Homo sapiens: one gene and its partner. The protein of the gene in region 2 purifies or fractionates together with the protein of the main gene of each other region. This does not show direct contact. Each region holds a gene or a part of one and is shown on either strand. Other genes may lie near its edges. The genes, in order: MECOM and SPDEF.

Region 1 (4,126 bases), on a different chromosome or scaffold from region 2:
GGAAATTATAGTAGATCAAATGATGGAATATTGGGAAACTGCTACATTATTATTTTGAAGAATTTGTAGCACTATGCAGTGTAATTTTTTTTTCTTTTGACACAAGCAAAGAAAGAAAAAATAAATCTTGTTTACACGCAGTTATAACAATGAAAAAAGGATATTTTGCATGTGGACAAAAAATTAAAAGGAGCATAGAAAAGTCAAAGGTTTCCCCCCTTTGTGAATCAGTTAACACTACTCGTATAATGAAAAACAAAAATAAGAAACTGAGTTCCTTTTGGCATACAATCCGTAGAAAACCTGTAAGTCGCTCTTTGTCCTAATTTAAGTGGATGCTGTGAACGTGAAGTGATACCAGGACTGGGTTGTGGTGCACTTGAGCCCTGACTGCACCACATGGGGAAAGTACAGAACAATAAGCGAGACTCATTGTTGCCCAAGAACTATCATTTATGCTATCTCAAAACAAAACAAACATACTCTACATTCCACATATCTGTAGGGCATCAAGATCTCAGCATCATATCTTTAAATCATTGGATCCCAAAGGGAAAGTAAAATTGCATGAAGGAAAAATACCACACAGTGGGGAAAAATACTCCTTTTTGTAAGTCTTTATTTTTTAGTTGCTCCTCCCATAGTAATGCACTGAAAGGCATAACAGTTTATATTGTACAAAGCATTTGAAGAAAGTACCTCAACTTGCTGATTATTTCAAAATGAGATTACAAACAAAAAGAAAACAAATCTGGTTCCTCAATAAAGGGCAAAATAACTGAATACAGTCTGTTATTTACTTCTCTCTTTTAACATAAGGTTGGGAACACTTCATTTTACAAATAGGATTAACATGAACATAACATCGCACAAGCTTGCAGACAACCAGCATAAAATATGGAGTACAGTTTTTAATCAGAAGAATCATGCTTCCATGAAAGAAATTATAATCGTTTATACAATTGAATCGATTTCAGTATTACAAAAACTAAGTTGCATCTATTCGTATTTAGTTCATTAAGAAGGAAAACAAAACAAACAAACAAAAAGGAATGTTAAGAAAAGCCAAACACCATTTGGCACTCTCATACACAGGTCGGGTCACCTTGGTCCTTGAAATTCGGAAAGGGGTGTGCCTCAGACGTCATAAAGTAGTGGCTGACTGGAACAGTGCTATTTTAATCAACAAACAATAGTTTGCCAACAAATAAATACATGATACACGCAACACACACAAAAAAATAAACATTAAAAACAGTGACATGATTGTCTAAAATTAAGATGTTATTACAAGGATTTGGCAAACAATTTATTAGTGGTACAGCGGTACTGGTGATGAATAGGTTACTTCACTGACTTAACCTCTTTGAGTGTTAACATCCATAGTTTACAATATACACATACCCTTTTTCCCTAGTTTTAAACAATGTACTTAAGAAGGCAAAAGGGGGAACAAGTACTCCCTGTTATCAGTTTCTATAATAATTGACTGTGCATTTCATCCAACTACTTCTGTCTTCAAAGGGTTAAATTACATAAAACTTTAACGAAGAAAAAAATTAAATCTGTAATTAAAAGCAACTGTTCCCAATCATGTCAGGTGATCTTGTACAAAAGAGAATTCAGTTTCTATGGAGTGTTCATTCATATCAATGCTGCCATCTCAACTGCCCTTCTCACCCACCCATACCCTAAGGTGGGGTAAACTGGAAGATGCCTTCAGCCCACCAAGTTTTTTGTTTTCACTGAATCACTTTAAGTCGCATTGATTGATCTTCCAGAAGTCAGCAGCTGCCTTTGCTGTGCAAAACAAAATATCGAGAATAAATAGTTTCTTTTTTCTTTCTTTTCTTTTTTAAATCATTCAGTTTAAGGTCACTAGACTTTAGATGAGTGACCCTGCAGGTTTATAAGGCATTCTGCTCAGCAGTCTTGTAAATAGTCCTATATGAAAGAGCCATGCTACTGTTGGACTTGGTCCCACTCTGGTCAACCTTGATAACGTCATACGTGGCTTATGGACTGGATAGCACTGGATTCCGCCGCAGCCCTGGCCATACTGTGCCACACGTTGGAAGAACTGTGGGATGTAGAATGGAGGGACTCCTTGTCAGACAGTGACAGCATCATAGCATATGCCTGGGGTAAAAAGGAGAGAGACTCAGTAAATGGCATTTGAAAAACATCACTTTTAGTTCAAAGAATATTGTTGGTAAATGGAAAGGGATGGGACCCTGAGTAGGGGCATCCTTCATGGGTGTGTTTGGCAAAGAAGGCATATTTTTTGTAGAAACCACATGGGATTACTGCTGGCCTTTAGTGCCTAGGGGCCCCAAAAGTGACACACGCTACAGAACCAAAAAGAACTATCCTACCTAAAATGCAAATAGTGCTTCCATTGAGAAAAATGAGTCAGTCTCCTGTTCAACTATAAATACAGTCATCCATCCACTACATATGTTCAATTCACCAAAAATATTATTGTGTGCTTATGACTGAAACCTCAAATATTAATAAGATATAGACCTACCTTGACAGAGCTGTGGCCTAGTAGAGGATACAGCCTGACTCCTACACTTTATAACCGAAAGCACTGAAGGTGCTTGAGTGACTTGCCCAAAGTCACTCAATTAGATAGATAGTGGGAGAAGCATAACTAAAATGTATTTCTGCCCAACTTTTAATCCATTGTCTTTTCTCCAATTTCCCTCCATGCTTGACATACTCAGTCCTGGCACCCATAAGTTGAGGTGGATCAAATCAGCTCTACCAAAAAAATAAAACCAAACACAAGACCCAACAGTGTTCTAATCAACTTGTTTTCCAGTGTCTGCTGAGCAGAAGGTGCATGGAGGTGCTCTGTGAGGAAGTACTCTTTCTTCCCTATTATCATGTCAAATTTTAAATAACTGTTCAGAGAGTCCCCTATTTACTGCCAAGCAAAATATTCAAATGAAATGTTTGGTCTTGACTTGTAAGTGAACTTTTCACTGTTGATTTGCTATTGTTGGTCTCATCCATTGCTAAACTTGCTTGTCAAAATGCTGCTGAAGTGGAATCATTAAAGTCCTGCCAAAGACATTCCACTGTCTGTAAACAAAGACAAAATGCCTCTGTTGTTAGGCAGAATTTCATCTCTGGGAGTCATGCTGAGACATGTGGCCAGTCTGTGGTTTCTTCCGTAATCATTGCATTTAGTTAGAAAATTTACCCTTGTAGGCTGATTTTTGATTTGCTGGGTCATCGCTCTAAATGTACACATTTGACTTTTATGTATGCAATTTGCCTTTTGGACTTCTACAATATCTCATGATCCATTTAACAAATATTTCTTAAGCATCTACTCTATGCCAGGCTCTGTGATAGATCCTAAGAAATTAAGAATAAATAATATAGAGTACTTATCTTTGGCAGAGTTTAAAGTATGGGTTAAGTGAGCATTCAACCTAAATTATCTATTCTGATTATGTACCTACTTTTAGAGAACAAGATAAAGAGTACTCTGAAAGAGTTAAAACAAATTCTGATATTTGGGAAGATAAAAAGGAGTACAAAGAAAATTTTGGAATTTAAATTTTAATCCTGCCTTTAAACCTGCCTCTACTCACCTAGCTGTGTGATCTTGAGCAAGTTGCTTAACCTTTTAAGCTTTACTTTCCTCCTATAAAACAGATGATAGTAATAACAGTATTGGCCTCCAAGAGTTGTGGAGGAATCACATGCACTAACTTACATAAAGTGTTTAGCTCAGTGTGCCTGACTGAGGTAATACATAAATAGTACCTATTACCATGAAATTAATTTTTACCGGATAGAGTTTCTTGAGGGAGAGCACATGCAAAATGCAGCTACTATTGTACTGGTCAACTATTTTCAATTCAATCACTATAAAAATTACAGACTATAAAAATTACAGAATAAATATATGAATGCTTTGACTAAAGCATCTGAGCCTTTAGATTCTAGAAAATGGCAAAACAGCATATCTGCCTTTTGGTAATCAAAGGAAATAAACATTTTCATATATAAGGATCAGTGCCCAGCATATAGCTGGTAGTTAATAAATGAACGAATGAATGATATTATGAAATAAAGTGAATTTGCAAAAGGGCCTGACCATTTTCAA
Region 2 (3,500 bases):
ATCCTCTCTAACAGTGACATTTATGGTGCCCTACTGGGACAGCAGGAGGGGAAGGGGGCTCCCTGATCCATCTCCAGTTACCCTGTGAGACTGACCCGCGCAGCCTCCGTATGCAGCTGGCATTTGCTTCTGCAGGTGGGACAAGGGAAAGAACCCAGTCTGGAAGACACCTCCACTTCGGTAGGGCCACAGCTAGCCCATTCAATTTCACACAACTCAGAAAATGACATCCCTTCCCCCTGGATAGCATAGCTTGACGAATGGAGCCTAGGTAGAATTTCAGCTTCCTCTGCCCACCCTCCTTGTGCAGTGCCCAACCTTCCCAGTGTTACATGGCAGCCCTGCAGCTTCCTGTGGTGGAGAAAATGCCAGCAGGAGGGAAGGGTGTTCCCTTTGATTTCAACTCTCCCATTCAAGGGCTCCTTTAAGTGACAAGGAAGGAAAGGTCAGGGTGGGGTGGGGTGGGCAGAGACCAAGGCGGGGCTGGGGATGTGGGGGACAGAGGGCAGACCTGGAATCATTTCAAGTCCTTCTGTGCAAACACTCGTGTGTGCTGTGGGCCCACATTATTTACTCAGGCAGTGCCAACAGCTCGCTCTGCCCCTGGGCCCCACCCTGCCTGGTGCCCATGCCCTACCCGCTAGGTGGCTCCACCCCTGGGGACCCCCCCCCGCAGCCCCCCACCCCTCCTTCATCACCCCCTGCCTGCCTCCTGCCCCGTCCACATCCCCAGAGCCCCCATGCCTGCCACGTTAGGACAGTCTCTGCCAACACCCTGGGCGCCATGCCAGGGAGACAGAAGCTTTTCCAAGAAGCAGAACTCGCTTCCCTTGTGGCCCTCCTGTTTGCTTGGCCTCAGCCACAGGTAGGACAGGAGGCAGCTGCTGTGTTTCAGGCATGGTTGTGTGGGGTCGGTGGGGATGAATGGGCAGGGCAGGTGGCAGCTTTTGCCAGGAAGGCATATAATGACACATCCTTGACACATTTGCTGAGTGCATGTGAAGCCCTCACATCCATCCCCTTGCCAGGAGAAAGGCAGCACAGGCCTTACTCTCTCTTTTTTTGAGATAAGGTCTCGCTCTGTCGAGTGCAGGGGCATGATCATGGCTCACTGCAGCCTCGACCTCCTGGGCTCAAGTGATCCTCCTGTTTCAACCTCCCAAGTAGCTGGGACTACAGGTGTGTGCCATCATGCCTGGCTAATTTTTAAAATCTGTTGTAGAGACATGGTCTCACTATGTTGCCCAGGCTGGTCTCGAACTCCTGGGCTCAAGTGATCCCCCTGCTTCAGCCTCCCAAACTGCTGGGATTATAGGCACAAGCTACCTCATCTGGCCCAGGTCTTATTCTCATCCCTACTTTGCTAATGGGGAAGTCAAGGTGCAGAGAGGTAAATCCCCAAATCCAGGTCTTTTGACTCCTGGCTCGGGCTCCTTCACCCTCTATACCCCACATTCCAGCTTGACCTTGCCCTATACCTAAATGCCAAGGAATCTACTCCCCACCAAGCCTCGGTCCTAGCTCCAACACTTCCCTGATGAAAAATAAGTTAATGGTTAACTGTGTGGTTGGAGGAAAGGTTCGACTCTCTGCAGATCAGGGGTGGTGGGGAATGCTCCGTCCCCAAGGCAGCCCAGGCCTAGAGTAGGGGGGCTTGGCTTACTGGTCAGGCAGCCAGGGCTGGTGTGCCCAACCTGCAACTAGGCGTCTCAAGGTTCTGGGCTGGCCTCAGGAGGGAAGAAGAGAGAACGGCACTGTGAGCCCCTGGCAGTGAGCACCAGTGCCACGCCCAGGCTTTCACCCACATCACCCGCTTTCCTACCCACAGCCAGGGTGACGTGGACTCCAGAGCCCTGCTTTATAGATGCGGACAGTGAGGCTCAGGGAGGCTGTGCAGCTTGTCCAGGGTTCTTCCTGGCCAGGTGTGGGTTCTGCTCACTGGACCACATTCTCTCTGAGGTGCATGCTCTGGCCAGTCCCATCTTCCTAGGGGATCTGCCCACCTCCTGACTGGGCTCCTTGATGCTCTAAAGTCTGTCCCCACCTCTTGGCTCTTCATTCCACCCCACTGTTCATATCCCTGCAGCACCCTTTCATCAGACACCCCTGTGCTCAAGAATCTCCCATGGCTCCCCATTGCCCCATCCCAGTGGCTGGTGCCTACCTCTGAGTCTACCTCCTACCTGGCCCAGATAATCAGAGCTGGAAGGGGCCATATATTATGTGATTGTTTCATAGAATGGGAACAATGAAGCCCAGAGTGGGGAAGGGATTCATGTGCTTATTAGCAGCAGGGTCCGGACCAGAACCAGGGATTGACATAGTGACCACAAATCCAAGCTCTAATGAGAATGGCATTTCATACCTGCCCCTGTGCTGTGGGCACAACATGGCTATTTTCTAAGATGCCCTTTCCTTCTCATCACAATTCATCCCAAAGCCCTCCTGCCCCAGCGAGCCCTCCCTAATAGCTCCCTCCTGCGACTTCCTAGGCTCGCCTCATCTGTGCCATGCAATTCAGCCCAGGATTAAATCCATCAGTGATGGTCCACCCATGGGGACACATGTGCACTGGAAAAGCTCAGGCTCAAAGAGTGGCAGGGAGGTGCCCACAGTCACACAGCACAGCCAGGGCCAGACCAGAGGCCTCCTGACACTCAGGCCACTGCTCCGTAGGCCAAGGGTCCTGGGACGTGCCAGGTGTCTGCCATGTCCAGGGTCCTCAGATGGCAGGACCCAGCGTTCCTGCAGCCTTGGCCTGCCAGTCCCACGGGCTGCCGTCTCCTGAGCGATGCCTCCAGCTCCCAAACCTCGAGTTGATCTCTTCTGGATTAAGCCACATGTCTGGATTAAGGCTCAGCGTGTCCTGGCTCCCTCCTGCTCCAGAGGCCCCAGATCCCACTCCAGACAAAGAAAGTTTGGTAACAGCTGGTGGAGGCCAAGGCCCAGAGACAGGAGCAGAATGGTGGGGTGGCGGCCAGGGGGATTAGCCACCTTGGGCCCCTTCTCTCAGCGCCTTCCATTCCCCCAGGAAGGAAGATTAAGGAAAGTGAGCAGAGGGACCCAAAAGGAGAGATTTAGTGCAGCTTTTCCTGCCACTACCCTGCCTACTCTCACCCCTCGGGGCTAGAAATGTGCCCCTTGAACCCTTTGCCTCCCAGGTTTTCACTCCCACACCCCAACTGGCATCAGCAAAAGATGCCCTCCCTGACAGCTCCCGAACCACAGTTTCCGGGAATGGAGTCACCTGGGAGGCGTTTGCTAAGGACCCAGGTCGCTGTGCGGGTTGGAGCCTGTCTTCCATATCCTGCTTGGTCCCGGCTCTCAGGCCCTACCTCCTGGGGAGATGGTGGTGTGGGGTAAATGTATCCTCACCCCTACCTCAATCCTGAGACCCAATGCCAGCCCGCCCAGAGCCCAAGACCCCAGCTTTAGTCCCCATTGAGAAGAGCACTGAGGGAGTGACAGAGATGGCCACTCTGGCCCTGCTGCTCAGCCCC

What was found.
Region 1: the proteins of SPDEF (region 2) and MECOM purify together in Homo sapiens (affinity purification with mass spectrometry; 3 studies listed by BioGRID and IntAct, with this or other methods). This does not show direct contact.

The regions. Positions count from the first base shown.
Region 1 is NC_000003.12:169,082,905-169,087,030, forward strand, and holds the end of MECOM (histone-lysine N-methyltransferase MECOM), read right to left. Parts: intron 2,140-4,126; coding exon 2,005-2,139; 3' UTR 603-2,004; downstream 1-602.
Region 2 is NC_000006.12:34,546,330-34,549,829, forward strand, and holds part of SPDEF (SAM pointed domain-containing Ets transcription factor), read right to left. Parts: intron 1-3,500. UniProt on the Homo sapiens protein: May function as an androgen-independent transactivator of the prostate-specific antigen (PSA) promoter. Binds to 5'-GGAT-3' DNA sequences. May play a role in the regulation of the prostate gland and/or prostate cancer development.